Linked DNA regions of Homo sapiens: all the other regions are linked to region 1. The links come from fine-mapping of genetic effects on plasma protein levels. A gene starts in region 1. Each other region holds a variant in brackets. All regions are shown on one strand. Distances are from middle to middle.

Region 1 (8,167 bases):
GCTCCGTGGCCCAGGCTGGAATGCAGTGGCATGATCATGGCTTTCACTGCAGTCTCAACCTCCTGGGCCCAAGCAATTCTGTCACCCCAGCCTCCCAAGTTCCTGGGGCCACAGGTGGGCACCACCATGGCTAACTAATTTTTTAATTTTTTTTTTTGAGACAGAGTCTCACACTGTTGCCTGGGCTGGAGTGCAGTGGTGCAATCTCGGCTCACTGCAACCTCCACCTCCCGGGTTCAAGCGATTCTCCTGCCTCAGCCTCCTGAGTAGCTAGGATTACAGGTGCCCACCACCATGCCTGGCTAATTGTTTGTATTTTTAGTAGAGACGGGGTTTCACCATGTTGGCCAGGCTGGTCTCGAACTCCTGACCTTGTGATCCACCGGCCTCGGCCTCCCAAAGTGCTGAGATTATAGGTGTGAGCTACTGCGCCTGGCCTGATTTTTTAATTTTTATTTTTATAGAGATGAGGTCTCACTATGTTGCCCAGGTTGGTCTCCAGCTCCTGGCTCAAGTGATTCTCCCACCTTGGCATCCTAAGTGCTGAGATTATAGGCATGAGCCTCCATGCCTGGCCCCTTTATCCATCTTTTAATGTTAATAATTATATCCATTTCTGTTTCCTTCAAAAATTCAAGTGGAAAACCTGACATAAATAATGGTAACTTTTTTATTATACCTATATCAATTAACACATATGTATAAAACTTCTACTTAGTTGTGCCAAATATCAGTGCACAGTATGGGTGATTTCCCCCACTTGCGAAGAATGGTGCTATAGTCACCGCACAGGAGCAGGATAGATCCCCACTCTCAAAATTGGGTTTGGATATCAAAATCAATAATGCCATCACACATGCAGCAAAGGGGTTTGAAAGGTTTATTGCTCACATAATACGTTTTTTTGGGGGAGAGTAAGATGGGCTTCCAAGCTGGTCTGAAAACTAGAGAGAACAAGAAAGGAGAATGGCTTTGGGATTCTTATTGTGGTTAGGAGTGGGGCTGTGGTGAGGGTTCCTGTACATGGGCTAGGGCTTACTGTTGGAACTTTGTGCTAGTGCCAAGGAAGGAGCACCTAGGCATTCTTATCAGTTTGCTCAGATGTGGGGCAGAGAGGAAGGGAAGTGGTGGGGCTTGAGAACTGTCTGCAGTCAAACATCAAAAATTAAGTCATACTCTGTATTACAACAATTAGAAAAGAAATAAAATGTAGTATATCAGTTCTCTATTGCTACAATATTGTTACATAACAAACAACCCCCAAACCTCAATGGTATACAAAAATAAATGTGTCCTGCTCACACATCTGGAGTCAACTAAACAGCTCTGCTGATCTTGCCTGAACTCATTCATCTGTCAGCTTGATCTTGGCTGGCTTTGCCAGGGGTGGGCTATACCCTGCTCTATGTCTCTCATCCTCCAGTAGGCCAGCACAGGCATGCTATCATGGCAAAGGCAAAGGTGCAGGAGTAAACCAGCCCAATAACACAAGCACTTTTTAAGCCTCTGCTTGTGGCACTTTTGCCAAAATCCTGTTGGCCAAGCATGTTACGTGGCCAAGCCATGAGATGTGTACACAGAAAAATAAAAGATGTGTACACAGAAGAGCAAAGAATTGGGGCCATTTTTGTAACCTACTGCACCTATTAATGGATTACTAATATGTCACAACTCTTATCCTAGATTACAGTATTAAGAGAAGGAAAGTCAATTCAATGATATATTTACTACTAAATGTTAGGTACTGTACTTGGAATTAGAGTTACAAAACTAAATGAGATAATCCTAAGGAGCTCACAGTTGGATACTGGAAAAAAAATCAAACAAATTAATACATTATTAAAATAAATGAAATAAAATCCAATGTAAGTACATGAATAGATATTTTAATAAGAAGTGGCATGGAAATGAAAATAAACTCTTTTGTCTCCTTTATCATATATTTCATAGCTAATTAAATTAATTTTATTATAATCAAATTTACTGTAGACCTGAGGACATAAAGTTTACTGAGACTCCCTAGCGAATGGCTGCATAAAAATGCAAGCCCTCTAAAAGCAAAACCAGATTGTAAATTCTGTTAGGCTAACAGAAAGTCATTTGATTCTTTTGTTTTTCCGTTACACTTAGTAGTCAACCAAAATTTATTGTGTGCCTATATGTGTGTATTAGTCAGAGTTCTCTAGAGGGACAGAACTAACAGGATAGATAGGAAGGGGAGTTTATTAAGGAGTATTGACGCACGATCACAAGATGAAGTCCCACAATAGGCCGTCTGCAAGCTGAGGAGCAAGGAAGCCAGACTGAGTCCCAACACCTCAAGTAGGGAAGCTGACAGTGCAACCTTTAGTCTGTGGCTGAAGGCCCAACAGCCCCTGGCAAATCACTAATGTAGGTCCAAGAGTCCAAAAGCTGAAGAACTTGGAGTCTAATGTTTGCGGGCAGGAAGCATCCAGCACAGAAAAAGATCAAGGCCAGAAGACGCAGCAAGTCTGCTCTTCCGTCTTCTCCTGCCTGCTTTATTCTAGCCATGCTGGCAGCTGATTAGATGGTGCCTACCCAGATTGAGGGTGGGTCCGCCTTTCCCAGTCCACTGACTCAGGTGTTAATCTCCTTTGGCAGCACCCTCACAGACACACACAGGAGCCATACTTTACATCCTTCAATCCAGTCAAGTTGACACTCAACATTAACCATCATGATGTGCAAGCTATTTTGCTGGGAATTTGCTAGGATCGAAAATTCCTAGTTTTTTTGTTGTTTGTTTGTTTTGGTTTTGAATCTTTAATGAGAAAAAATACTATTGTGCTCAAGAACACCGTGCGTCTGGTGTGTCATTGGGTCAAGGGTTGGGGACACACATGGCAGAATTCAGAAACAGGGTAACATCAACAAAAATACACACGGTCATAAAAAGAAAAACTGGCACCTGGCATGATCAACTCTGTTTCCTCATCATTCAGCAGCATGTTGGGGATCCTGCGGCTGATGGGGAACACACGTCCAGACTCTGGGCACTGCAGGGTGCCCTCCAACACATCTACCTCCAGCAGCACGTGGTGCATTGTCCTCACCATGGAGATTCCTAGCAAATACTCTAGGTATTTTAAATAGAAGAAATTTAATACAGGGAAATGATTACATATATAGTAGAAGAACTGAGATGTCAAACAGAAGAGTGAGGCAATCCACATTTTAGCAACTGCAGTAAGTGACCTCCAATGTCATGGCTGGAGGGTGCAAATGGTGAGAAGGCAGAAGCTAGAATCATGGTGGACCCCACCTGCAAGAGTCACAAAGAAGATGCATCCATTCAGGTCACAGAGAAGTAAATACTCTAGTGTCTACCTTCTACCTTCTTATTGCTCTCTAGTCTCCCATTTTATCTAGACTGCTGACAAGCATGCAGTGGAAGGTGAGCACCAGATCTGAGAGGAAACAGGCAGTGTCTGGTGGCACACTACACAAGAACTCTCACAGGCATCCACTAGGCTTGCTTGGTGACTCATTTAAGGAGTAACCCTATTTTATGTATCAGAGTAGTCTATGGTGTGATATAGCATATTGCTGCTTTTGATGTTTGGTTTCATTTGTTCCCTGTAGGCACCTAATCACTGTTTTTTAAATTCCCCAGGAGATTCTGGTATACCCAATCAGCTGAGAACCACTGAATAGTGGCTTTCAAAATTTTGAGCATCCAAATATTGTCTTCACAGAAAATCTTAATCTCTGAAGTCTACTGTAAAAACATAGAAAGGCAAGGCTGTTCTGCTTGAAGCGTAGCTTGGGAGCCTAGATTCCTCTCAAACCCAGGCCACTCCTGGGAACATGGTCTGGAGATTTGAATGTTCCCAAATCTAGTTTATCTCATTAGTCGATATTTATGCACATCCTCTGTGTCTCTCAGTGTTCTCTCATGTGTAGACATATGCCCCATTCCAAAGAGTGACTGTAGTGTAATGTGGCATTAAAGGAACCCTGGATAGACCTGTATTGGACCTTACATATTAGAGAGCTCTGCAGATAGCTCACAAATCTCCAAGTCGCTAGCTGTAAATTGAGTGATAATTGGTGTCAGGTTATTTTAGCACAGTTTGGGGATAAAATGGTGCATTAATCTCCCAGTTTGTGGCTTATTAAACTTTGAAATGGAATTATTTGAGACATAAAAGAGATAGCAATACTTTGCTGGATGTTCTCCATTAGTCGAGATTGTTACAGAGGAGAAATTTTTGCCACTGTTTATCAAATATTTTTTCCTCTAGTTAATCCATATCATTCCGGGAGCTTTGCCCAGGAAAAGGACGAATTACTTGCGTTCCTCCGATCTCTTTCAAGTTCTACTCCCGTACCTTTAAACTGTCACACGGAATCTTTGGTGACAGAGGAATAGAGGTGGGCAAGCAGGGCGTTTGGAAACCATACTGAAAACGAATTATCCATAAAGCACAGATTCACCAGCCTAGAAATGGCTCTGTCTGGATGGATTCCTTGAGATGTGTTTTATCTCCATTAAAAACACAACAACTTTCAAACTTTCACTGTGTCTCAAAATGATAGAGAAAAAAATTCAGCCTTTCAAGTATTCAAGAAAAGCTTGAAGAAATAAAAGAAACTCGCTGCTCTCTGGGCCACTTTAGGAGGCAGAGCGTTCCTGGAGAACTTCAGGATTCATTCGCAAGGGAACCCAAGGTGGGCATTCAAAGCCGATCCAAAGGATATTCTTCTTTTTAGAAAACAAAAGGAGCGCAAGGAGTAGGGGACTGAAGGTGCCCAAAGCTAGTGGGTCAGTGTCACTTTCTTCCTCCCTTTCGCCCCTTTCCTCCCGCTCCTTTCTCCCCTGTGGTCTCTGCTCAGCACCCCTTTCTCTCCAGCCCCGACTGCCCATCTTCGCCCCTACCCTCGCGCGTCGGGGCCGTGTCTACACCCACCCCAGGACCTGGTCCGTCCAGGCTCCTTCCCATCCTCACACCCGCGCCTTTCTCCCTGCGGCCCCGGCTCGCTGCTCCAGCTGCCCAGCTCTTCCCAGGACAGGGGATCCCGCCAAGGGGGCCGCCCCCGCCCCGGCCCTCCCCCGCCCGGCCGCACCATAAAGCGCCCGGCCGCTGCCGCGGAGCCCAGCAGCCAGCTCCCCAGCACCGCACGGCGGGGACGCGAGCGCGCCCCCGACGGCAGCCCGGACGCCGAGCACGGGTCACCTGCGGCGCCGGCCCGGGCGCCGACCGAGGTTCAACGCACGGCCCGGGGACCCCCAGGCGGGGCCAACGCCGCCGTCGCCCCCGGCCTCGCGGGGAGCAGGAAGAGCCAACATGCTGGCCCCGCGCGGAGCCGCCGTCCTCCTGCTGCACCTGGTCCTGCAGCGGTGGCTAGCGGCAGGCGCCCAGGCCACCCCCCAGGGTAAGTGGGTTCGGGTCGGGCCTGGGAGCGCCGGGCACCGGGTGCCCCATCTGCTGAGTGAGTGGAGGGACTTGCTCGGCCCTGTGCTCCTGTGGCCTTGCTCAGCCCCTCTCTGTCCCTCCCGGGCCCAATCAAAGCATATTGTGATTGGAGGTAGTGATTAGTCTAGAATTTTCCGAAATTCGATTATCCAATGATGAGAACAATTGCCTAAATAGTTGGGGGATGCAAAATTGTTTCAGACTATGCAAAGATGTGGGGTGGGGTTGCCTTCAAAACTTGCTACACGGTCCTAGACCTCTTAACATGTTAGGCTCTGGTGTAGGGTGAATTCCGGGTCCTGCACCCTGTGCCGGTTCCCTCCAGGCAGCCTTGCTCCCTAAATCCTTCCTCAGGCGGAGCGATGTATGCCCAGAGTCTGCTCTTGACATCCCTGAGAAAGACGCAGAATTACTCTACTTGCCCTGCCACCTGCATTTTCTGCTCTGACTTTGCTTGAACGACAAAAAGAAAGTTTATTTCAAGGATTGGCTTGATGTCTTAATTTCTGAGGTAAATAGGAAGGGCTGAGAAACTGGTCTTTTTCAATGAAATCAGTTCTTTGCAGCAAGATGGATGCAGCTGGAGGCCATTTTCCTAAGTGGATTAAGGCAGGAACAGAAAAGCAAATACCATGTTCTCACAAGCGGGAGCTAAGCAGTGGATAGATATGGACATAAAGATGGAAACAGTAGACACTGGGGACTCCAAAAGTAGGGGGGAAGGTTGGGAAAACTACCAATTGGGTACTACGTTCACTGGGTGATGTGTTCACTAGAAGCTCAAATCCCACCTTATGCAATGCACCCATGTAACAAACTTGCACATGTACCCTCTGAATCTATAATTTAAAAAGAAAAAAGAAAGAAATTGATCTTTTTCTATGAAACGGTAAAAATTCAACAAATAATGTGAAAAGATACTTGGACAATCCTCAAACCCCTTGGTGAAATGGGGTGAAATAGCCATTGGGTAGAAAGCAGTTAAACAGAATTTTTTGTAAAGACCAAAAGGAAGACATGATTTAAGCAAAGAAAGATCTTAGGGCTATAACTGGCCCTAACTGGTCAGGCGTGAGCTTCATCTGTTTGAACTTGGTGCCTGGGTTGATTTATTACTGACTGTGGAAGTAAAACTGGAAGAGACGCACAACTTGAAGTAAAAGTTGTTTTTCCTCTTGTAGCCAGAGCAAAGACTGCCTATGAGGGCGTTCTCAACTTCCCTGCCTCTCGCTGCTGGAATCACCCATTTAAACTGCATTTCGCCAAATAACTCATTTTCATTCCAGACCAGACAACCAGAACTGTGGTTTCAGGGGTTAGAGTACTGCTAACTTTTAGTTTGTGTTGAAGTATTTGAAATGCTGTAGTCCGTGCCCCATACTTCTAGGAAGGTAAAAAAGGAAGCTTTTAAACACTTCAAAAGTCTTATTGTGATGATATTTGGCAAGTTCAAATTTATAGGTATAATTTTTTTGTGTTATATACGTTCTTGACTTTTGAACATACAGCTTTATGGTGTGCCTTAGGTATGTCTCAGACATACCTGACCATTTTATGGAGATTTGAACTCGGCCTATACAACCTAAATTATCTGGGTAATTTAGTTGCTGTAGATGATCTGATTAAGTTAAGTTTCTGATAGATTCTTTTATTGCATTATCTAGTCTGCAATTATCAGGCTTAACAGGATAATTTGATTATCTCCTTCTTCCCCTGAGCTTCATTGTTGGTCTTAAATTAGTATATATTCAATTTACATACCATGGTAGCTGCGCTCATTGGTAGCAGTAATTTCACCTCTAACAGTAGAGGGTTGTGCTTTGATCCTGGCACTTAAACGTAATAACATTAATAGAAAATGGTAGTGTCTCATTTCCTTTTCAAAACACTCTCTATGTTCATTACTAACTAATCCCATCTCTGCCGCTTGAGAGAGATGCAAATGAATCAGACGAACCATAGATTGAAATACCGCAAGTTTAGCTTGAGTTACATCATGAACCTGATCATAGTCAAAGGAAGAATCAAGAGTACTAAGAATTTTGTTTTGAATGTAGTTCCCATACTTTAAATACATATCTCTTTTCTGAAGATGTTTTGTCCTGAATGGAACTTTAAAACATATTGCCTTATTTCCCTTTGCCCTCATTAGTGGAAATGTAAAGTTTCCAATTCTCTTGAAAATTAAAAAATCCAATTTCCCTTTTGAAATGCAGTAGGCAACAGTGTTTATGGTTTAGGGATATAGGCACTAAGAGGAGCACAGTAAATGTTCTGCTTTCCAACACATCTCATGTTAATTTCATTATTGTGTAAGGACCCCTGGTACATGTGAAAAATACAGTATAGATCCAGTTTGAAGACAAATTGTCTTTTAAAAGGGGTAAATATTCTTGAGTAACTAGGTTTTTGCCTGTTTGCTTTAGAACTTTTATTCATTCTTATTACAAAAGCAATACCTGCCCATTGTAGAAAAGATTAAAGTTAGATAAGCAAAAAATAAAATAAAAAGAAAAGAGGAAATTTAAAACTTATATTTATGCAACCCGGGGATAGCTTCTATTAACATTAACATGTTGTTGTATTGTCTTTCATTTCAAATATTTTTCTATGCAAAAATATATTTCAAATGGAATTACGTTATACATATAGTTTTAGAATCCTTTTTTCTTAATGTATCATGAACATCTTTTCACATCTGTAAGTATTCAGCTACATTTTAAAAATAG
Region 2 (8,167 bases), 62 kb after region 1:
AGGTGAGGCAGGAGGATCGCCTCAGCTCAGGAATTTGAGACCAGCCTGGGCAACATAGTGAGACCTATCTCTACTGAGAATGTTTTAATAATTCGTCAGGCATGGTGGTGTGCACTGTAGTCCCAGCTACTTGGGAGGCTGAGATGGGAGGATTACTTGAGCCTGAGTGGACAGGCTGCAGTGAGCTATGATTGCACCCCTGCCCTTCAGCCTGGGTGACAGAGCAAGACCCTGTCTAAAAAAAAAGAACTCTTATTTATCAAAACGAACATCTCAACAAAAAGCAACAACCACCACATAGGAAGGAAACCACCACCTAAACGTGAATTATTGCAACTTAGTCTCTGAACGAACACTGAAGCCTCGCTTTCTTTTAGGTATTGCTTCGCAAAGACTTCTGCCTTGTCCCTCAGCCTAAATTCACAGGATAGAGTCTTCTCCATGAGCAAAGCAAAGAGCCATTCATCTATCCACTCATCATTCACTCATTCTTCAGACACACACTGAGCAATTACTACATACCAGGCACTGTGCTAGATACTGGGAGGGATTTTAAAAGTACACAAAGCCAGTCCATTTTAGTCCAGGCCTCTGTATGACTGAAAGCCTTTGTCTTACTATTAATAATACTGATCATAACTGCAAAATTATAGTGTAGTTTAGAATTAAATGAACCTGGCCGGGCGCAGTGGCTCAAGCCTGTGATCCCAGCACTTTAGGAGGTGGAGGCGGGCAGATCACTTGAGGTTAGGAGTTTGAGACCAGCCTGGGCAACATGGCAAAACCCATCTCTACTAAAAATACAAAAATTAGCCACGTGTGGTGGCATGCACCTGTAGTCCCAGCTACTTGGGAAGCTGAGACAGGAGAATCACTTGAACCTTGGATGCAGAGGTTGCAGTAAGATTGTGCCACTGCACTCCAGCCTGGGCAGCAGAGGGGGATTCCATCTCAAAAAAAAAAGAATTAAATGCACCTCAAAGCCAACCACTAGATTCTCTCGCTCTGTTTAGAAGACATTTGTTTGTTGTAAGAACCCAGACTTAATCCTGAGAGGTTTTAGCGGGGTCTAAAGAGAGCCTCGTCCTAAACATCCCTGCCAGGAAGAACACTTCCAGGGAGCAGGGGGCAGGCAGCTTCCTGGCCCAGGACAGTCTGCATGACCTAAATTACTTGAGTCAAAAATTCTTTGGGCCATATAGTGTTTTGGTGGTTGCTGTTGGGTTTTCTATTTGCTAACTTGAGCAAACATTTAAAATTTGAGTGTTTTTAGACAAAAACCTGGATTTCCAACTTCTCTTTAAAAAGTCAAAAGCTCCAGCCTCCATCTGCATTCACGCACAGGAACCTTGAAAAGGGCCTGTGTTGTCCATGCACCGCAGTGTCCACACATGTAAGTTTCTACCTGACTCTGTAAGTGATCGAGTATGAGAGTCCGTACTTGGGATTTCCCAGGTACCCTGTGCGGCCTGCAGGGGATATGGAGAAGGTTGGGACTCAACCCCTCTTGTGGCAGGCCAGGTCTCACGAATAGCTAAACAGGCAGGCCTCCATGACAACTGTTTCAGCACTGACTGAGTGCTTAGGTTAAACATTAAAGGCTGCAAGAGCCAGTGTCCTTACACAAAGGCTGGAATGTGACAAAAGCCACCAAGAGTCTTGCCTAGGCCTTTCCTGGGCCTTGAAGCATGACAAGATAACAAAGAAATTCTTACATTCCTCGTACCCACGTTTAGGATTAAACACGTTTTATTAGGGGTCAGCAAAGAACTCCCCAGACCGCCATAACTCAGCGGGAGGCAAGATAAGGGTAATCACCCCCAGCACCTGGACCCATCTAGATTAAATAAACTTACTGAGGCTCCGGAGGAAGGTCTCCAGGACTCAGATCTTAGTTATGGATTACAGGGAATCAGTCACTTGTGTCTTTTGATGAATCCACACTTACATGTAGACATATAGCTTCATATAAGCACTGGAAAACTTTGTAAATATGAGTCGGTCTGGTGATATTTTCCTGGCCTTCTGCCTGTACCGGGTTACAGAAATAAACTCTCTTCTTTCCCAGTTTATCTGCATCTCATTACTGGGCCATGAGAACAAGCAGCCCAACCCTCAGTTCAGTCTGGGAACACTCTGGCTAACAACCTGTTAGGGGTTGTCACCACTGCCTGGAGAGGATAGGGGTACACTGGGGGCCAGCCGACAGGAGCTGAGGTCTCAGGTAGAAGATTCCTACCTTATCAATAGATGGAAAGAGATTCAAACCCAGCATCACTGACTCTGGTTCCAAAATCTGAAATTCTTTTATAGCGACAGCACACATTCACCAGGTATGCAGAGAAGAGTTAACAGCAGGTCCGAGATGGCTGCTGATCTTTAGTTAGAAAGGCCTAATTGCAAAGTTGGCCCTTGGCTGGTATCTGAGCACTTGGCTTTCCAGAGTGTTCCCACCATTTCTGAAACTGATAAGAGTGGTTCACCATGTCTTGACTGTACAGTGTGGTTTATGCTGAGCATCTGCTTTCTTTCTGGGAGTTGGAATTTTGGTACATGGTAGGGAGAAGGTGCCTACAAGACGAGACCCTAATAAAAACCCTGGGTGTTGAGTCTCTAATGAGCTTCCCTTGTGGCCAACATTTCATATCCCTTGTCACAACTCATTGCTGGGGAAATTAAGCACATATTATGTGACTTCCACCTGGAGAAGACTCTTGGTAGCTTGCCCCCCTGGTTTTCTCTGGACTTGGCCCCATACACTTTTCTTTCTTTTTTTTTTTTGGTGCTGATTTTGCCCTGTATCCTTTCACTGTAATAAATTATAACTGTAAGAATAACTAGATGCTGAGTTATGCTTCAGCCAATCACTAGATTCTATTTAGAGGGCATTTGTTTATTTGAAGAACTCAGACTTACTTAATCCTGAGAGTTTTTACCTGGGTCCAAAGAGAGCCTTGTTCTAAACATCCCTGTCTAGAAAGCCTCCGATGAGACTTTCTAGCAAACCACTTAAATGTAGTGGTCTTGGAGACCCCGAAACATCAGTCAACTATCTCCAACAACTGAAAGAGGCTTTGGGCTTACAAAGTGCAAAGAATAATTGAGGTGCTAGGTCATCACAGGCATCACTAATGAGAAAATAATGGAAAACAGGGGCCTAAAAGTTGAGGCCAATCACCACAAAACACCTGCAGAGCTGGAGAAGCAAAACTCAAAGTGGAGACCCCTGAGATTGGACACATGACAAGGGACAGAGTCTAACTGAAGTGGTTTATTTGGTTAGTCTCATACCTAGAGAAATTTAAGGTGAGGCAGTCACCCCCAATACCAGCTCTACCCTTCTTTCATAGTCATAGTGTCCCAAATTTTTGCAGGAACCCAGATGCCCAGAATAAAAGATTATACTTCCCAGGTGAGTTGTGGCCATCTAAGTTCTGATCAGTGGCATATAAGCAAAAAAGTTCATGGTAGCTTCTGGGAATCTTCTTCTAAAGAGGGTTAATTTTTTTTTTTTTTTTTAAATGGAGTCTCACTCTGTTGCCAGGCTGGGGTGCAGTGGTGCAATCTTAGCTCACTGCAACCTCCGCCTCCCGGGTTCAAGTGATTCTCCTGCCTCAGCCTCCCAAGTAGCTGGGATTACAGGCATGCACCACCACACCCGGCTAGGTTTCACCATGTTGGCCAGGATGGTCTCGGTCTCTTGACCTCATGATCTACCTGCCTCGGCCTCCGAAAGTGCTGGGATTACAAGCGTGAGTCACCACGCCCAGCCAGATCATTAATATTTCTTATTCGTCCTCTTATCCCTCCTCCTAGGCTGGAATATGGATATAATAGCTGGAGTTCCAGAGGCTGTCTTGAGTTGATGAGAAAGCCTTGGGAATAGAAGCGTCATCACAGAGAACAAGATAGAACTGACACCGTGGAGTAACATACCAGTAACAGACCATAAGATTTCTATCACT[G/T]GACTTTGTGGACATGAAAAATCTCCATCTGTTCTTGGGGCTTTACTGTTACTTCCAGCTAAATTTAATCCTCCTTAATGCAAAAGAAATTCCGGATGGGGAAGTGTTTATAAAGTCATGTATCCAGAACCATAGACTCACCAAATCTTAGATCTGAAGAGTCATCAGGAAGCTTTTTGTTTCAGCCTTTTCATTTTACAGTTGGAAAAACTGAGGCCTAGTCACCTCTGTGGTTTGTCAGGGTTACATGGCTAGTTAGGAGCAAAACTGAGGCCAGATCCCAGGTTTTGGGGCTACAGGCTCATGGTTCTCATTTTCCTGCTATGAGAACTGCCTCAGGTAGGCCAGGGCAGGGGTAAAGTCCAAAAGGGGGTTTCTGTCTAGAGGACTCAAAGAAAAAGCAGTGTCGGATTGCCGTAGCTCACGCCTGTAACCCCAGCACTTTGGGAGGTCGAGGCAGGTGGATCGCTTGAGCCCAGGAGTTTGAGACCAGCCTGGGCAACATGGTAAAACTCCATTTCTTCAAAAAATACAAAAATTAGCTGGATGTGATGGTATGTGCCTGTCGTCCAAGCTACTTGGGAGCCTGAGGTGGGAGGATAGCTTAAGCCCTGGAGGTTGAGGCTGCAGTGAGCTACGATGGTACCACTGCACTCTAGCCTGGGTGACAGAGTGAGACTCTATCTCAAAAAAAAAAAAAAGAAAAGAAAAGAAAAGAAAAAAAAGAAAACATGCTGATAGACTGTACGTGATGAAATTTCAGAGATCTCCTGGGAGGCCATCCCGCTTCCAGTTTCGATGGGCAGAGACTCAACAGTGGAAGGCAGGTATGACCTGGGACTTCTCAGGCCCCAGCTTCCCTCCTCTTCACCTTCCTCTCACCCATCAGACTTCACACCTCCCTCTTCCCGTGGTGTTCAAACCTAAGTCTATACAGAGTGCCTCGAACCCATATGGTGCTTAGTGGTGGAACCCGGGCTAGATTTCACCCCACCTGTGCCTTCTTGGCCAGTCCCTCTATGAAGTACACAGACCGACAACCTTTTACAGAGGACTGGGCTTGACAAAGAGCTCGCTTGGATCCATCTTGCTTCCCTGTGCGCACCCGGCCCCACTCACACCGAGGGAGTTTCGGCCCTGCTGGAAACACCGTGGCAGATGCTTTGGTGGCCTGCCCATTTCTTTCACTTTGTCATTCACGGATGTCAAAGCACCAGCACCTGCAGTTCTTTGTTTCTGGGCTTCCTCTGGTGCAAAAGCTGCTTTTTCTGCCTATGTTGGAGGTGCGGGGGATTTAGGAGACCTAAGGAATGGGCTCCAGTGAGATGAAGGGAACGGGTGTGTAAAGCCTCAGCCCCTCGCCTGGTGGGGGCTGAGTCTGAGGAATGTGCCCTGCATTGTTCCCGCATGATTAGGCTCCAGCTGCCCCCAGTGGTAAGGCCCCTCTCCTCCCTCTCCTCCCTCCCCAGTCTAGGGGTGCTTCACCTCCCAAATAAAGAGGGTTCACTCATCCTTATCTCAGGGTCTGCTTCTGGGGGAGCTGACCAGAAGCAAACCTTCCTCAGCACTCAGATTTTACTTACTCCAAAATTAGGGAATATTAAGTTTGAACAGATACCCTGTGCTCAAAAGCATGCGCACAGACATATATATAGAAATTTCGGGCCGGGTGCAGTGGCTCACGCCTGTAATCCCAGCACTTTGGGAGGCCAAGGCGGATCACTTGAGGCCAGGAGTTTGAGATCAGCCTGGCCAACCTAGGGAGACCCCATCTCTACAAAAATAATTATTTAGCTGAGTGTGATGGTGGACACCTGTAGTCCCAGCTACTCGGGAGACTGAGGTGGGATGATCACTTGAGCCTAGTAGTTCAAGACTACAGTGAGCCATGATGGCACCACCGTACTCCAGCCTGGGTGACAGAGTGAGACCGTATCTCAATTAAAAAAGGAAATTTCCAACTTTTCTCTGAGCCCACTACCCAAAGACAATCATATGCCTCAGCCACTCAGCTGAGCTTTACTGCCCTTCCAAGAATAGCCTAGAAATCCAGTAAGGACAATGGAAACTAGAAAAATGAAGAGACACTGATACTGGATCTAATTCATATTTTTAACCCCACTCACCACCTGCAATCACACCCACCCACAGCCTTCAGTAAGTGCTCAGTAAATATCTGTTAGTCAGCAAAGCTACTGGGAGCACACACTCTGCCCCTGCGCCATACACCCTGCCCCCAACCCCTGCTCTATTATGGTGATTTCCCCACTCCTAGTCTCTCTGCACAGAATGGTGAAGAAACTGCATTTGGTTTTTTCAAACTATTCTTCAGGCCGGGCACAGTGGCTCATGCCTGTAATCTCAGCACTTTGGGAGGCTGAGGTGGGCAGATCACAAAGTCAGGAGTTCCAGACCAGCTTGGCCAACATGGTGAAACCTCGTCTCTACTAAAAATTAAAAAAATTAGCCAGGCATGGTGGTGCGCGTCTGTATTCCCAGCTACTCAGGAGGCTGAGGCAGGAGAAACGCTTGAACCTGGGAGGCGGAGGTTGCGGTGAGCCGAGATCACGCCATTGCCCTCCAGCCTGGGCGACAGAGCAAGACTCTGTCTCAAAAGAAAAAAAGAAAAAAAAAATACAAAAAAAAAACCTATTCTTCTGCACCCTCAGGAGAATGGGCCAGGAACATGCTCTTGAAACAGGCTGCTTGCTCAGAAATACATTTCCATATTAGCAGGCGCAGCTGTCACTCCTGCTGGAGGCCTGTTGGCTTCTTGAGAACTGCTAGTCTCACCATTTGCCACATGCCCAACAGGAAAATTTAATTCACAGAAACTCAGAATGCCAGATTCCTCCTCCCTCCCAACTCAGGGATCCCCTCAAGAGCCTGCCTGACAGCTGTTATCTCCTTCATGAACACCTCAAGTGACAGGGAACTCACCGCTGTATGATGTAGCCTATCCTATTGTTGGAAGGCTCTAGTTACTAATAATTCTTATTAGTAAACATCATCTATTAAACATTTGCTATGTGCCAGCCTCTATTAAAAGTAATTTAACTAGCCAGGTGTGGTGGTGTGCACTTGTGGTCCCAACTACTTGGAAGGCTGAGGCAAGAGGATTCCTTGAGCCCAGGAGTTCAAGACTGCAGTGAGCTATGATCGCGCCACTCTACTTCAGCCTGGGCCACAGAACAAGACCTCAACTCCTTTAAAAATAAAAATTAAATGAAATGTGCTTAACCTGTGTCAACTCATTTAATCATGACAACAATCCTATGAAATAGATGCTATTGTTATTACTCCACCTGACCTGACAGGCAAGGAAACTTACAGCACAGAGAAGTAAATAATTAGCTGAAGATCACAGAGCTAGCTAGCAAGTGGCAGAATGCAATTTCAAACAAAAAGTGGCCTTTGAGAGCTTTCCTCTGTTGCCTTTTTTCTACTTGGGGCAGAAATCTTCCATCCTATAAGTGAGCCTTTTTAGGTCCAGATCCTTGTGAAATTGTGATGAGTGCCAAGGACCCTTTCCATGCTACTGTGCATATGGTCACAAAACTCTGCATATTATTTCAGGGAGTCAATCTACCCCAGTCCTTGGACCCCAGGTTAAGAACCACAGCTAACACAAAATAACGTTGCTCTTGTATCTATTTGGAAATTCTCTTATGAACTTTTTTATTTCTAACAGACTTTCTCCAAGCTTAATTTTCCCTATTTTTTTATTTTTTTCAGACAGAGTCTTCCTCTGTTGCCCAGGCTGGCATGCAATGGTACAATCTTGGCTCACTGCAACCTCTGCCTTCTGGGTTCAAGTGATTTTCCTGCCTTAGCCTCCCAAGTAGCTGGGATTACAGATATGCACCACCACGTCCAGCTAATTTTTGTATTTTTAGTAGAGATGGGGTTTCACCGTGTTGTCCAGGCTGGTCTCGAACTCCTGACCTCAAGAGATCCACCCATCTCAGCCTTCCAAAGTGCTGGGATTACAGGCATGAACCGTCGCGCCCGGCCAATTTTCCCAGTTCTAGATGAAAGAATGTTCAACCACACCAATACTCAAAGATAGACAAATTCAAATAATAAGGTTAAGGTGTTATTTTGTACCTTTATAACAACAAACAACTATAAAGAAAATACTCAAAAATCAAGTGCTGGCCAGGTGCAGTGGCAGACACCTATCATCCCAGCACTTTGCAAGG
Region 3 (8,167 bases), 160 kb before region 1:
AGAAGAGATGAGGGCTTGAGTAGATGAGAAGAGAAAACTCTTTGAAGTCAGCCCTTGAAAGATTGGTTCAGCAGAGAGCAGGGGCTAGGACATTGCAGATGAAGCAGGGAGACAGCATAAGGGATATCATAAATATACATGGGATACGGTATATGTGTGTATGCATGCATGCATAATAGTTATATGTGTAAATAGTGCAAAATCCAGAAAGTTAAAAAGATATGTATTCTGGCTCCTTGTTCCTCCTCACCCAGTTCCCCTCCCTAGAGGCAGCGTTTATGTTTAAAAATATTTAACAAAGACAGAGTATCGCTCCGCATCCCCAACTCATGGCTGGATGGCTGAACCGTTTTCTAAGAGTGGAAGTATCAAACATGCATGTTTTCATTGTTTTATCCGCAGTGCATTCTGTGACCACTCTCCACAACCAAGTCCTCACAAAAAATACTTCATGCACCATTTTGGGGACCAAGTTCCTGCCCCAAGATGCAGAAAAATTGAGAGGCCTATATAATGTTAGCCACCCCTGCCTCCTCCCAGGAATCCACAGAAATCTCCGGAGGACTCTGGGCTCCTGCAGGTCATGAGTTGTGGGTCTGAGCCAAGAGCATGGAGATCTAAGAGATCTAAGGGACCGGGAGGCCCCAGGGGCATGTGCACTGCACATTAAATGGAAAAGGTTGACCCATTTGGAGACCAGGGCAGCTTACAGCCAAGGAAGGGCTGCCTCTGCCCCCAAGGGGATGTGTAAAGGGGGTGCCCAGGGACACACAGGAGCAGCCCTCATGGAGGGCACTAACAGAATCAGGGTTCACAGGCTGCAGGAAGACAACTGAGAACACACAGATGGACTCTGGCTCTTCCCAGATGAGTTTCCTGACCAGAAGAGAACTCCCGCATAGAAAGGTTATGTGGGAAACACTCTGGTTTTTCTTCTCCTGCTGTGAAATCAATTAAAAACAGGATGGATATAAAATGGTTTTATAACCTCCTCCACCTCTGGCTTCCTTTCTTCTTGGGGATGAGCCAGGCAGAGTGGGGAGAGACAGGAGTCTCACGGTCTGCAAATTCTGCAGCAGTTTAAATGATAGTGACCTATTGCTTCAGCTCTCCTCAGGGGACCTGGGGCTGGAGGAGAAAATGTCTCCTTGGAAAGTGGCCAAAGGAAGGAGAGCCCCATAGAGGGAGTGAGGGTAGGTAGGGCCCAACCCTTCCAAGTTCTGGGTCAGTCTTAGGTTCAGAACGCATCTAACCTGGGGAAATGAGACAGCCAGTTTTGGAAGAGAGTTTATTTCCCACAGAACAATTCAAATGGCTTGTTAGCCTCGCGCACACTTGCTTGATATGACCCAACATGAATAATTTTCATTCCTGTTTTGATTTACAAAAAATGATAGTACATAACTTTTTTTGAGTACTACTCTGTGCCAGGAACATACTCAGATACCTTTCTTACGTTAACTGTAATTCTTATAACACTACTGAAAGTTAAGTACTATTTTCTCCTGTTAAAAATAAGGAAAATGAGGCTCAATGAGGCTAAGTAAACTTCTCAAGATCAGAGAGCTAGTAAGCGGCAAAACCAGCATCCAAACACAAGTTTGTTAAAATAATAATAGTTCTGACTTATTGAACTCTTCTGTGGGCTAGATATTTGACATACATTATCTGAAATCCTTATCACAACCCTGTGAGGGATTTTGCTGTAGCTCCATTTGACAGATGAAAAAGTCATATTTAAGGAAATAGTGCAAAGCCCTAGAACTGACTTGGTGAAGTCTGGCCTTGAACCTGGGTCTCTCTGGATTCTCTGATGCCTGTATTTATTCCAAGTGTGCCACGCAACTTCGGGGACCCAGAAAGGTGCTCTTGCCCTAGGTGCTTCCAGTGGGTGCTCTGGGACCAGCGAGGGGCCCCCACTGGTTGTCCGTGGTGATCTGAGGTTGAACTGAGCTGTACACAGAGCATGAGAGTGGCTTCTGCCAATACACATTGTTCTCCGCAGCATGTAATGTTTTCTAGGGCCTTGGCCAACTTGGCTGAGGCATTGTAGACATCTTGAGGGACTGGGTTCCGAGCATCTTAAACGGATCGACAGATTTTATCAGGAAGTACTGCTTCTTACCACAGAGCTGCCCACATTTTTCCCAGTGAAGAGTATTAGCTGGAACTAGGGTTCCAGCTATTTTTACACCCGATGTAAAATCATGTGAATGAGCTTCCATGGCTTACACATCCCTCCTTACTCGTCAGACAGTTCTGATCTGCTTTAGGCAACCCCATCTTCTCTTTATTCCTGTGTTATTTTCCAAGGCACAGCCACCCACAAAACATCTTGGGGAATCTTGATGTCCCAATCCACATCTTCGCTTCACTTACTTGCTTGCACCCTGAAATCTGTAGTCCACAAGCAACAGCCACAGCAAGACAATCCGAGATTGGGCTGGCATTGAGAAACGCCCAAAACATGTTTACATCTTGCATGTCTTTTAGGGCTCTTGTTAACCCAAGGAGAAAGAGCAGTATGAACACCGGTTTTAGAGAATAAATCTAAGACCCTGTTAGTGCCCGAAGCAGGATTAGAAAGTAGATTTTCACCGGATTCCATTGTCCCCAATTCTCTTGCTCCAGACCCTATTCTAAGGCATAAAGTTAGGGAAATAGCCACAGAGGCTCAGGCACATTGCCCTGATTTGAAATGTTTCCCTCAAGGGGTCCTTTCAGTTGTTCTGAAAACTCAGCCTGAAAATTGTAAATGCCCCATAAAGGCAAAGCTTTTACCTGGAACAATCCATTGCAGAAGAAGCATATTCCCTAAAGCCAAGGTTGTTGCACAATTTGAGCTGTCTCACAAGCACCAGCAACTAGTCATTCATTTATTCAAGAAATACATACTGAGTGGCTTCTAGGGGCCAAGTACTGCCGAGTACTGTGGACTCAGCCTAGCTCTCCTGGAGTGCAGAGTGCATCGGAGGAGTCAGTTGAACAGGAACTTTTAGTGAAGTGTGCGCTCTGGGAGTAGACAGCAGGGGGGCCTGGGCAACCCCAAGGTCAGGGTTGGCTTCTCTAAGGAAGTGACATTTAAACTAAGACCTGGAAGACAGTAGAAGCTGGCCAGGCAAGGATGACATGGAGTCCTCCAGTGTGGCAGCCATGAGTATGAGCCTCGCAGACCTCCAAGATGGAGGAACTTCATTGACCAGGAGCCCAGCTGCTGCACTCTGCAATCCATCACCATGCCTGTATGGAGGCCATGCTTCCCATAGGCTACACCAAGGCAATGGCTGAGGTTGGTGGGAGTGCCAGGGCAGCCTGTTCCTTGGAAGCCAGGACAACTCTGATGGCCACCTTTGCTCAAGAACACCCCCATAACGCTGCTGAGCTTCTTTACATTGCTGGGTGGTCTACAGTGTTTCTCTCCATCCTTCCTCCCATCTCTCCTTCATGTGGAGTCAGGCTTGCACCGTGTTCCTTATCCAACCTCTCTCCTCTCCTGCCTGCCATGGGCATGTGTGACATCGCTCAGGGAGGATGAGAAGCGGGAGGTGAGCTGAGCCAAGAGGCCAGGAAAGAAAAAAGGGAAAGGGCCCTGGGTAGAGCCGGGCAAGTTCTATTGTCCCAGCAGGAGGAGGAAAAGTCAGACAGGAGGAGTCAAAAGTTGATTCCAGGGGTTGTTTGAGATTAGAATCCTGTCCCTTCTTTTTAAAATTCCAGAATGGCTCTGGCTAAAAGCTTCCTGTTTCAGGACAAAGTCCCAAAGGAACTTTTTTGTAAAGCCATCTTGTAGATCACCTATAAAAGCTTTGTCCTTCCCTAACATTTATATCCTTACAGGTATCAGAAGAAGGTGGCTCTCCAGAGTGTCACCTTGGCAGGGCCAATCCCAGTCCTGACTGGGGAGAAGCCCAGGTGCCAGGAGTGTTGTTACTGCGGCAATGGACGCTGCAGTCTGCCGGCACCCGATGCCGCTCACCAGCTCCATCCTTCTAATCAGCAGCCGAGGCTCAGATTCTTCCCAGCTGCATGGGGAGACTGTCCTGCTCGGGCTGCTGTGAGTCACTTGGCAGATCTAGTTCTCATTGCACATTAATGCATTGGGGATTTTGTTTTATTTTTTTAAAAATAAAAGAATAACATTAACATCAAGGGAGGTCATCA[G/A]AGAGAAAAAGAGTTACAAAAAGGCAGCATGCGGCCTGTGCGTGTGAGGTGGAAGGTGGAGCGGGGGTGGGTTTTGGCCTTTAGGTGGGCATGGCTGCCCCAGCCAGGGCTTCAGTGGTGCCTTTCACATCCATTCTTTATCTATAGGATGCCTGGGGATTAGGTAGGAGTGCCAAAACACTGCAATTATAAAAAGAGGGAAAAATGACCCTGTTGGTGATCATTTAAGGAAGTATTTTAGGACAACTGAAAGGAAATAGATCTTTACACAGCCTGTAGCCTGTAAGTGGAACCCATTACCCCCATTAGGTGTTCTGCATGGAAGTAAAAAATGGGTCCGAGAATAGGTCAGATAAATTCACAGATATTAGATGTCATGGTCACTAGGATCAGCCTATGAAGAGCAAGTTACCATGTTCCCATGAAAATGTTACTGCTGCCCCCAGAGGACCTGTGCTCCAGCCACATCAAGCTCCTAAATATTTCTGGAACAGTGAGTCTTCTTTCTTGAGTCTGTGTCTTTGCCATGCCGTTGCTTCTAGGTTCCCTTGCCACTTTTTCCCAAGAGTGGTAAACTACCACTTATTCTTCAAGATCCAGTTCAAAGCCTCCTCTAGAAAGCCTTTCTTGAATCCTCTAGGGCAGGGGTGGTCACTCCTCACTCTGTGCCCCCAAAGCCTGCTGTACCAAGCACACACACAAAGCTACCACTGCACTATAATTGTTTGTCTGCTCAACTGGACTATAAAATTCTCCAGGGTAGAGATTGTGCCTGATTCATGTAGCTTAGCAGAGAGGCTGGCCTGCAGCCTCTGTGCAGGAAATACATGTGAATAAAGGAATGAATGTTGAGTTACATCAACCAATGGTCTCACCACTTAAAGGACATATTCTTAATGACATTCTCAGAAGCTTTGCTTCTAATATCACTTGGACAATACTCTTCTGCCAGGACATATTCCTGTTTATCTCAGCTAATATATATGCTAGTCTCCAAAGCAGCCATCTGTGTAGTTGAAGTGAAGTAGCCAAGAGAATTGAGATTTTAGTGTCTTTAACTTAACTGTGTCTCTCAGACAAATGAGCCAGTTCCCCAGAAATCTGGTCTAGAAACATTGCCAATGCACATTCCAGTGACTTTGAGATGTTAGAAAAACAGACATATCACCTTTCAGGCTGAAATCACTGGGAAGTGCATTTTAAAGCTGGGTTTCCTTCCAGATCCTTAGGTTGTGAATGACACACAGTCTGTGGAAAATTTATGAGATCACCAAGAAGCCGAGGTCTGAAGTGTTCAAGAAGTGTTTAACCACAGATCAAACACAACATTTGCGTGTTTCTGAAAAACAACAACAACAACAAAAAACCACCAAACAGCAAACAAAGGTCTAATGATCAAAATGGTGTCCAACTCAAACCAATATGAGGGGTCTGCTCAGGCCCATATGTAGAGATTCTGAAGATGATGAATTGTAGGAAGAGAAAGGAGAGTAAGACCCTGGCAAGTATGGGAAAATCCAAGAATAATGAGGGGTGCTGCTCGGTCAGTTAAATAACTATCCCTAGAGAAAAATTCCTGGAAGCCGAGAACCTTGGGTTTCAACCCCAATTTACATCTTTTTAGAAAATCATTTGAACTTAACTTTCAAATGATTGACTGCAAAAATTTGTTAGTCAATTTAAAAATATCTATACATGCTTTTATGTGTGTGTGTGTGTGTATGTGTGTGTGTGTGTGTGTGTATTTTTAGTAGAGACGGGATTTCACCACGTTGGCCAGGCTGGTCTTGAACTCCTGGCCTTAAGTGATCCACCCGCCTCGGCCTCCCAAAGTGCTGGGATTACAGGCGTGAGCCACTGTGCCCAACCTACACGTGCTATTAACTTAAAGGCAAATGTAAAGTGTTTTGATGGGCCGCAATGCAGCTTTTTATTCAGAAAATAGCTTTGGGGCAGCTAGTATGTCCAGGGCCCCTGACTGGGCCCTAGAGATGCAGCAGGGAGTAGGACTGCGGTCGCCTCTGCCCTCATGGGACCTAGAGTCTGGTAAGAAGAACAGGCCCAGAATAAGTGATTACATTAATAGCCAGTGGCAATAAGGTTTTGCTGGGAGACATCCAGAGGGTTCTGTAATATCCAGTAAGGGTACTTGATTTATTCCAAAGGGCAAAGATACTCACCCTGAGGAAGTGAGCCTGGGCTGATGCTCAGCATTGTGGATGTAGGGAGAAGAATGTTCCAAGAAAAGGGAGGACTCTCAAGAACCGAAGCTTACAGAATTGCTGAAGCCCAGGATGAGAGGAGGAATCACCAGAGAAGGCTTGAGAGATAGGCAGGGGCAAGACAAAAATATTTAACAGCTGACACGTGGATATAATTTCATAAACTATTACATTTATCTTAAATGTAATTATAAAATGTGTTCCATTTTATTCTCTAAATTTGCTAAATTATAGATATTATTCAATGTCTTCCTTTCCAAGAGATTTAAGTAATACTACAAATTGTTTATAGATGTGATTTTTTTTTTCTTTGATGTAACTGCCACTAGATAAATGATGCCCCTGAGCCATGAGAAAACTTTTCCAATGATTTTCCCATTAAATTGCTGCACATTAAGTAACACGCAGACTCAGGAAGTGGAGAATCCACTTAACTTCAATGGTATTTTTCAAGATGCTTAATTTTCTCTCAGCATCTGCTGAAATAACAGCCATTGCATTAACAAAGTTTCCTAGCGCTTGTAATACTGCCTTAGATTTTTATCTATTCAATATCTTTATATTGACTAAGTCATGAAAATGGTATATTGGAATCACATGCTTGAGTTTCACCTACTCCTTAGGCTAGATGAGAGGCTCTAGTGGGCAATTACGTACTGAGCTGCCAGTTCAGTATTTTGGCTCAGCCCCTCAGGCTGTAGATAACCTCCCTGCACTGCGGTTTTCTCATGCATAAAATGGAAATTATGGTATCTGTGGTGTTCCACTGAATTAATATACATCTAGAATGAACACAGCTGGCGTTCTATTCCCATTAGCTCTCCCCTTTAGTAATAAAATTAATATTGTAAATGCCCAGGACAGATGACCATCAGGTATCCAAGCTCTTCTGATAAATGTAGGAGTAATTCAACAGAGAAGAATTTCTCACTGGTCTCCAGACCATCCTTATGGGTGCCTGTCTTTCTCGAGAGTGCCCATCATTCCTGAACTCTGCCCGGCACCTGACCAGGACCTGTAGGAAGCATATTAATATGCACTTATTTGCTCTTTCAATTTTCACTGGGTACTCTAGGAGCCCAAGTTCGACAAAAGCTGATGTTCCCACATATGGCCAGGTGAGGGCGACTCTGAGGGAGCACTGGCCTGTGGTAGCTGACTACAGCCTGGGAGGGTACCAGAGTCCCTATCAGGGGTAATGTCATCCCTTTACCATGGGATTTGGGAATGCTCTGGTTAAGTGAATTCACTGGGACAAGGCCTAGAGCTTGGTGAGCATAGGGCTTGCCTGCTGAACACCACCACAGTGATCCTCAAGCAAAACCCACCTGGATTGGGAAAACACCAAGACACGGGCATGAGGCAATCCTCTCATGGTGGAAGCCAATGGCAGTGCCTAGAAGTCCATATTTTGGGGGAAACTGATTGGCACAAGCATCAACCAACCAGAGTAGATTCAGCATTCACTCTTTGGTTAATGGGTGGAGAGGAGATAGGGGAAGTAGTTCCAAAGCATAGGAGAATTTTACTATTTAAGCAGCTAGTACCATTAACCATGCAGATAAACACAAGTTGAATGTTAACCTCAGAGCCATATTAATGGCCCTGGATGCATAGGAAGAACATGGACAGCCACAATGGTCTTATGAGATCTGATGTAAGTTTTTGACAGTGTTTTCTGAATACAATATGAAGAACAAGTTGAAGGAAGTCAAGACTGGAGGCAAGGAAACCAGTTGTGATACCTTTCAAGGGTTCAGGTTGGGATATGAGAGATATTTAATGTG
Region 4 (7,697 bases), 39 kb after region 1:
TTCCCAAATCCAAGGATCCAAAGTCCTGGGGATCCTAGGCACTGAAAAATCAGCAGACTTCAGCTGCCCCCCTCCTCTGCACTTCCTGGGATGCCAGGCCCTCGGCCGGTGGCCCGTCAGACTCTGGGGTCACTGGTTCACAGTGATCACCCCTGAGTAGCAAGATGGATTCTCGGAGCCCTTTTCCATCTTTATCTCAAAGTTATGCTTCTTTATCTTTATGCATACACAATTTTCCACAATGAGCCTACCACTTTTCAAATAGGAAAAATAAGAGTCAAAAATGAGTTAATAAATAAATATAATGAAGTCAGCCCTCCTTGGCAATACAGATATTCTGTAACAAGGTCAGATGGAAGAATGTGGTGTATCAGAGGGGGAATAACCCCAGCAATTTCCTGAATTCCTCATGGTTGGGCTTGTTTATTACCAAAAAGCAGTCATTGAGAAACAAGTGTATATCTCTGTTGAAATCCCCATTTTCTGTGAACAAATTGACAACTCCCCTGGGATGATGGGTGATGGGGCTCTTAATATGTTTTTGAATTTGTAATAAGGCACAACGACAGATGGTAAAGGATTAATAAACTTGGCGTGACTACTAAAATAATTGAATCTGCCAGAAAATAGCTCATTAAAAATGTATTTGTTCCTAGAGGACATTTTTTCCTCATTAAAGTGAGTCAAGGATCAGCCTCGTGGATCAGCCTTCCAGGCCTTCCAAAGGCCCTGCTGGGGCAAGTGAGCAGGAACCAGGAGCCCGGGAGGGTCTCTCTGGAGTTCTGCCTCCTAAATCCTGGTTGCAGAGGGAGAGCACAGATGATTGAGAATAAGCAGGCTGTGGCTGAGGAAGTCACTGGTCTGAAAGCTTTTGGGTGGTGAGGCCAGGAAATTTAACCTGTGCTCACATAAGTCTGATTTCCCTTGGCCCAGACTCTGCTCCTCAGACTCTCTCCCTCTTCCTTCCTTTACCTCCCGTCCCAGGTCAGCTTTCTCTCCCTCTGCGTTTCCAGTTCCCTGTGACCTTCTGGGTCCCCTCCTCCCATCTCCCTTCTGCTGCTCTGCCTGTTCCTGGAAGTGGGAGTGGGAGGGAGAGTTTTCTCTCTGAGTCTCCCTTTATATCTTTGAATAGTGAACCATTACACTATTCAAGTGCAATTAAATAGTTTCTAAGCCCCACCCAACAAGGCTGAGTGACTCTGGGCCCTCCCCCTGGGATTGAGCAAAGGAGCAGAGAGGCCCTTGTCAGCCACCAGCTTCCTGCCAGGCTCAGCTTCCCAGGCCTCTGATGGGCTTTCCCTTTACAGTGTGGAGTCGGTTGGGCTGGAGATGGCTATATCTGTGGAAAGGATGTGGACATCGACAGTTACCCCGACGAAGAACTGCCATGCTCTGCCAGGAACTGTAAAAAGGTAAGGGGTGTGGGGTGGCAGTAGGCACACATGCACTGTGGCTTTCCAAAGTCACATCTTCTATGGGGAGAGGTTCTGTGGATCTAATTTAAAATTGTACTTGTAAAGTAGCTGCATCTCAGAGGAAGTGAAACAGCCACCAACAATAAAGCCACAGTGTCTTGAGGTCAGAAACAGTTACTGGCTTAACACAAATGTAGGATGTCACTCGGAACTGCATTTTCCCCCTAAGGACAACTGCAAATATGTGCCAAATTCTGGCCAAGAAGATGCAGACAGAGATGGCATTGGCGACGCTTGTGACGAGGATGCTGACGGAGATGGGATCCTGAATGAGCAGGTACCTGCTTCGCTGGGAGGGCCTGTGAATTGCCACGTACCAGGGATGATGGGAGAAAGCCTGTGATGTCAACTATGTATATGAATCATCCCAAATGTTAGTTTCCATGCCTGCATTCCACAGCACTGCAGCTTTTTACCCTATAAGATTCACAGATGTTTGAAATATAAAACTGACAAACTTGGGCCACCAGAGTGCTGATGCTTCACAACAATGGAGGAAGTGGATTTAGTAAAAGTCTGAGTGATGTTCTGTCCTTTCATCTTTTAGGATAACTGTGTCCTGATTCATAATGTGGACCAAAGGAACAGCGATAAAGATATCTTTGGGGATGCCTGTGATAACTGCCTGAGTGTCTTAAATAACGACCAGAAAGACACCGATGGGGATGGAAGAGGAGATGCCTGTGATGATGACATGGATGGAGATGGTAGATTTATCTTGCTTTTGTCTTTTATTTGGAATTCAGTTGACCTTGTTCCATTGTTCTCTGAGAGAGTAGGAATAGAATGACTGATTCGGAGCCTTCCAGCTGTGGGTGGCTCATTGTGGCCTGCATCTGGAAGACCCAAGGTGGACTTGTGTCTATGGAAGGAGACCCCACAGCCCACTCCACTACCTAATGGCTCTGGATGTTTCCAGGACTCTGTATCATTGCCAGAAACTTTGTATGACCCCTTCAAGCAGTGTCTTGTCAGAGTGTGTCTTTATGGGGTATCTCCCTTCCCATTTCTACCTGTCCTCACTCTCCACTATCCTTTCTACATGTGAGAGACCCAGAAGTGGAGAACTGAATGAGAAGGCATTGAGCAGGGTCACAGACTATGCATCACAGGCTACACATCCCATTGTGGGCCCTTGAAGGAAAAACCTTTTTGAAATACCACCTGCCCCAACACACACATACACACACACACACACACACACACACACACATACACCACTCCAGAACATGCACACCCCCCTAAAACATGACCTCACCTTCTGCAAGCCTAACTGATGACCCATTTCCAGTGGTATATGCTGGTAAGCAAATCACAGAAAGCCCTAGTTGGTAGCATTTTCCAGTTTCCATGATGTAACTCCGCATTGTCCTCATTGCTGATTTCAAGCTACCAATGTGACATCATCAAACACAAAACTGAAAAGAGAGGGACACAATGGACCCAGCTCCAGCACAACACTGCCTAGAGCCCTAGGGTCTCAGTCATAGCTCAGATACCCACGAGATCCTCCCTCTCCAGGGTCAGCCATACAGCCATCATGATCCCCTCCTCGTGGTTGCTATCATAGCCCTTGACATCTTGGACAAATTAGAATTCAGTCGATAAATACCTCTGAGAGCTGTTCATTTTTAAGTCTCCCAGAATCCGTCCTTTGAAGCTACCTCTGGATAACTGCAGAAAAGGGTAGTCTCTGTGTGACACTGGCCCAGGCAGAAGTGACTCACCATGCGCCTGATCTCTCCAGCACCTAGAAGAAGTCAGTGACATTCCCCTGACTCAAGGTAGCATTTCTTTCTCACAGGAATAAAAAACATTCTGGACAACTGCCCAAAATTTCCCAATCGTGACCAACGGGACAAGGATGGTGATGGTGTGGGGGATGCCTGTGACAGTTGTCCTGATGTCAGCAACCCTAACCAGGTTAGTAGGATACTGGGGAATTCAAACTCCAGGCTGAATTCCTCTATGCAAAGACTCATTTAAGACGGGTGTCTAGAAAAACAGCAGAGCCTCTTAGCTGTTGCCACTTACCTAACAAAGCAGAGGTGGAAAAATGACACACTGTGGGCCTGAAGATGGTGGGATGAACACCACACAAGATCTGAAGCCCTAGGGACTATCTCCCAGGCTGTCGATTGCCTGTGAGGTTAGTAACACGAACTTCATGATGCTCAATACAAGTATTTTTCCTGCAGAAAGGAAAACGGAGCATGGAAATTAACCATTGGGAGCCTTGTGTCCCTTTAGTCCCTAAACCCCTACACAGCCTATGTATGGACATTTCAGATTAAGTTCAGCCAGGGATGTGTTGCATCTCCCTTCTCACTCCTCCTCCCTGTCTGGATAATTGGGTATGATGTGTCATTTATTTTTAAAGCCCTGAGAGAGGGGAGTCATGGTTGCCCTCTGTGACTCACTCATGATTTTGGCCAAATTGCAAATTGCAGAAGCAAAGCAAAATCAACCTGCCTTCTCCCCATGCCTATGGCTGGCTCCCTGTGACCCGTGCCAGAGTTCCATGCCTCCACCTGCCACCATGCTACCCCAGCGCCCCTTTCCAATCAGCTCATCTGGTGTGTGGGCAGCCCATCCATGTAGCTTGATATTTTAGAAGGCTTTTTTGAAAATTCAGCATTGTGCCTACACCAATATGGTGTTGTCCTTTTGCAGTTTTGCACCACCCCGGTTCCAGAGAAATAATTCCCCAAATCCAATGATGATGGGTGAGGTCTGCCTTCTCTGGAACATTCGGTACATGCAGGCCCAGGAATAAATAACATGTGCTGTTCTCTTTGCAGTCTGATGTGGATAATGATCTGGTTGGGGACTCCTGTGACACCAATCAGGACAGGTATGGCATGTCTCCCAACTGCAGAGAGACAGATGCAAACATCCGGAGAGGGTTTTTGGTTTGTTTTTTTTTTTGAGGCGGAGTCTCACTCTATCACCCAGGCTGGAGTACAGTGGTGCAATCTCGGCTCACTGCAAGCTCCGATTCCCAGGTTTATGCCATTCTTCTGCCTCAGCCTCCCAAGTAGCTGGGACTACAGGCGCCCGCTACCATGCCTGGCTAATTTTTTTGTATTTTCAGTAGAGACGGGGTTTCACCATGTTAGCCAGGATGGTCTCGATCTCCTGACCTTGTGATCTGCCCGCCTCGGCCTCCCAAAGTGCTGGGATTACAGGCGTGAGCCACTGTGCCCAGCCCGGAGAGGGTTTTAAATTTCAGAACTTCCTGCTGCTCCATTCCTTGGGATCTTTCTGGGTGGACTGAGCTGCTGGTGGGATAATAGCCCTGCCTCTGGTCAGAATTACCATGAAAATTCTCCCTGAAAGTTCTGTATAGGGTATAACGGTGTCAGAATAGGTTACTAGGCACTCCAGCAAGTGAGATCTATTTCAGGAGAGGTAATATAGCATCATGCTTCACAGATGGGCTCTGGAATAAGACAGCTAGATATAAATTTCAGCTCCTTCTCTTACATGCCAGCTAACCTTAGGCAAATTACCTAATACTTTTGCCTCAATTTTCTCATCTGTAAAATGAGGATGACAATAGATCTAGCTCATAGGACCATCGTGAAGATTGAGTTGATCCATGGAAAGTGCTCATTATGGTTTCTGTTATATACATAGCACTCAATAGACATTAGCTCTTTTATTTTTATATTCTTTCAGCTCAGGAAAACTTCACCATCATCCCAAAATAGAAGGCTGTCAGTTTGCTGAGGGATTGCTATTATTTCCTGGTCCTTGAAATTTTTTTAATTCAGTTTTCCTTATTTAAGTGGAATTGTTCTGTGGAAGTGAGTTTTGTGAACCCTCCTAGCTCAACACGATGGAGTCCCACATTAAGACTCAAGGCTGGATCAACTGATCAGATTCTGGAAGAACATCACCAAAAACAGACGTGTGTCACTCAGCCCTAGCGGCACCTGCAACCCAAG[G/T]TTCTAAACCCTTTTGTCTCCATAGGGAATTCTTACAAAGGCAGCCAGGACAAGGATGAGAGGGAAAGGATTCTAAAAGAGAAAGCAAAAAAAGATGCAATTTCTCTCCTGATACCTGGATCAGAGGTTGCCCTGCAGAAAACCAGTTCCTGACCCAAACCTTACTCAAGGACAGCTCCTATGAAGCCACAGCTCTCTCTCTCTTTTTTTTTTTTTTTGAGATGGAGTCTTGCTCTGTCACCCAGGCTGGCGTGATCTCGGCTCACTGCAACCTCCACCTCCTGGGTTCAAGCAATTCTCATGCCTCAGACTCCCACGTACCTGGGATTACAGGTGTGTGCCACCATGCTGGCTAATTTTTGTATTTTTAGTAGAGACAGAGTTTCACCATGTTGGCCAGGCTGGTCTCGAACTCCTGGCCTCAAGTGATCCACCTGCCTCATCCTCCCAAAGTGTGCATCTCTTTCATTATGCTCTGTGTCCTTGCTGCAAAGTACATATAGTCATCCCTCAGTGTCCCAGGGTATTGGTCCCAGGATACCCCTCTGCCCCCAGGATACCAAAATCCTCAAATACTCAAGTCCCTTATATAAAATGATGTAATATCTGCATATAACCTATACCTGTCCTCCTATATGCTTTAAAAATCCTCTCTAGATTACTTAATACCTAATACAATGTAAATGCTAGGTAAATAGTTATTATACTGCATTGGTTTCTTATTTGTATTTTTTTGGTGTTATTTTTTATTGTTCTTTTTCAAATCTTTTCAATCCTCAGTTGGTTGAATCTGCGGATACGGAACCGCGGATACAGAGGCCTGACTGTACTAGCTAAGTGAACTTAAACATATTTCCCAGTCTCTTCACATCTCAACTTCTTCATCTGCAAAGAGGAGATAAATAAATGCATCGCACAGGTTATGGTGAAAAATCAAGATAATGTAGGTAAAGCTCCCGGCACAGTGCTGGCCCAAGGGTGACATGCAGAAAACAGGGGCCGTGTTATTATTGGTATCACAGTACAAGGAAAGGCACATCAGCAACAGAGCCTGACATCAGATGTCCCTCTCCTCTTCCGAGAGGAAGGTGGGACTGTATCCTGACAACTGCCCTAAATGATGTGCGTCAAGAATGTTCCCTGGTGCAGGTCATCTTGCACTCTGACTACTATCTACATTAATTTCTAAAATATCCTGTCCCACCAGCCTCTAGATATTTGCCCAAAACAAATGACTCATTCTGCTATGTTTTAATTCCCACAAAGTTGAACCTTGGAGAAGAGGATAGGAACTGCTTGTTTTTGCATAAAAATGTTCAGGGCTACATAGAACGGCTGCTAATGGAAATAGCTCAGTCTTGTGTTTTATAAAGCAGACCTGCTGCATGCACAGGGATTCTGCTGTTTGAGCCACATCATTTTCTGCTTGTCAAGGCTGACTTCACTTTCACTGGACCCTTTCTGTCCCCCTGTACCATGTGGTAGGTGTGGCCCTAGAGCATGGTCTGGTCCCTGGCTTCCCTCTCCAAAAGGGTGCAGGGGCAGCTCCTGGCCCAGGACAGGCCGCAGGTGGACCAGGTCTAAAGGAGTGCTCATTCTTTTCCAGAGTAACCATGAGAGGTCTCAGACTCCAGGACACCTCTTGGAGGCAGGGCAGACTCATCTTCAGGTGGCCCCTCAGCCCAGAAAGTCAGGTGGACAGAGAAGGAGAGTTCTGAGAAGTCCTTTAGACCAGCACTGAGCCCGGCCTACACACTCTCCTCGAGAAGGCGTGGCCCTGTTCACTTTGCCCTTCTCCCCATGGCGTTCAGGTCTGAATCCTCATTGGATCCACTAGCCAGGGATTGTGAAGAGTAATATAACGGAAAACACTGTAGGGCTTCCTAAGAGTCAGCACTTTTTCATATATTGAAATTTAATATGCAACATTCTGATTTTCATCATTTAATCTCCATAACAACTCTATGAGGTAGGTACTATTCTCATTTTACAGATGAGGACACTGAGCCATAGAGAGGTCAGGTGTCATGCCTGAGGTCACACGCTGGGCACAGTGGCTGAGCCAGGATTTACACTGAGGCTGTCTGGTTCCACTGCCTGTCATTGTTCCCCTCACACATCCTCTGAGTTGAGTATCATCTAGCAGTTCCCAGGGACTGACTGATAGGAGCATCTGGTCATAAATCATAGAAATAGACCCTTATCTTCTTTAGTAGGAAATGACTCACTTGTTTTAAGAGGTTGGGGATGGGAAAATTGTCTCTGAGGCCCA

Alleles and levels. Alleles are on the strand shown, and positions count from the first base shown. The strength of an association depends on the size of the effect and on how common the allele is.
In carriers of allele G in region 2, the plasma level of the protein whose gene starts at base 5,120 in region 1 tends to be lower than with T alone (moderate association).
For the plasma level of the protein whose gene starts at base 5,120 in region 1, A is the low allele of the variant in region 3 and G is the other (moderate association).
For the plasma level of the protein whose gene starts at base 5,120 in region 1, allele G in region 4 goes with a lower level than allele T (moderate association).

What was found. PIP is the posterior inclusion probability: the model's chance that the variant is causal. Protein levels are from antibody-based Olink assays in UK Biobank. Linkage for the fine-mapping came from a reference panel and not from the study's own genotypes, which makes the PIPs less certain.
Region 2: its variant is fine-mapped to the plasma level of the THBS4 protein (UK Biobank, PIP 0.98).
Region 3: its variant is fine-mapped to the plasma level of the THBS4 protein (UK Biobank, PIP above 0.99).
Region 4: its variant is fine-mapped to the plasma level of the THBS4 protein (UK Biobank, PIP above 0.99).

Annotation. Positions count from the first base shown.
Region 1 is chr5:80,030,229-80,038,395 of GRCh38, forward strand. It overlaps THBS4 (thrombospondin 4), which reads left to right and starts at 5,120. Exons shown (of 22, transcript NM_003248.6): 1 at 5,120-5,397. The coding sequence starts at 5,310. It also overlaps the pseudogene TRMT112P2.
Region 2 is chr5:80,092,405-80,100,571 of GRCh38, forward strand. No RefSeq gene overlaps it. Among named protein-coding and RNA genes, the nearest start is that of THBS4-AS1, 13 kb to the left of the region's middle. The variant G/T (reference allele first, on the strand shown) is at 3,966.
Region 3 is chr5:79,871,406-79,879,572 of GRCh38, forward strand. The region is part of intron 1 of LOC105379048 (a long non-coding RNA gene); the gene reads left to right. Among named protein-coding and RNA genes, the nearest start is that of LINC01455, 61 kb to the right of the region's middle. The variant G/A (reference allele first, on the strand shown) is at 4,159.
Region 4 is chr5:80,068,999-80,076,695 of GRCh38, forward strand. It overlaps THBS4 (thrombospondin 4), which reads left to right. Exons shown (of 22, transcript NM_003248.6): 11 at 1,308-1,412; 12 at 1,645-1,752; 13 at 2,023-2,182; 14 at 3,280-3,398; 15 at 4,277-4,329. THBS4-AS1 (THBS4 antisense RNA 1) reads right to left here. Exons shown (of 8, transcript NR_109930.1): 4 at 3,510-3,667; 5 at 3,088-3,225; 6 at 2,734-2,893. Among named protein-coding and RNA genes, the nearest start is that of THBS4-AS1, 11 kb to the right of the region's middle. RefSeq lists an enhancer at 1,191-2,390. The variant G/T (reference allele first, on the strand shown) is at 5,426.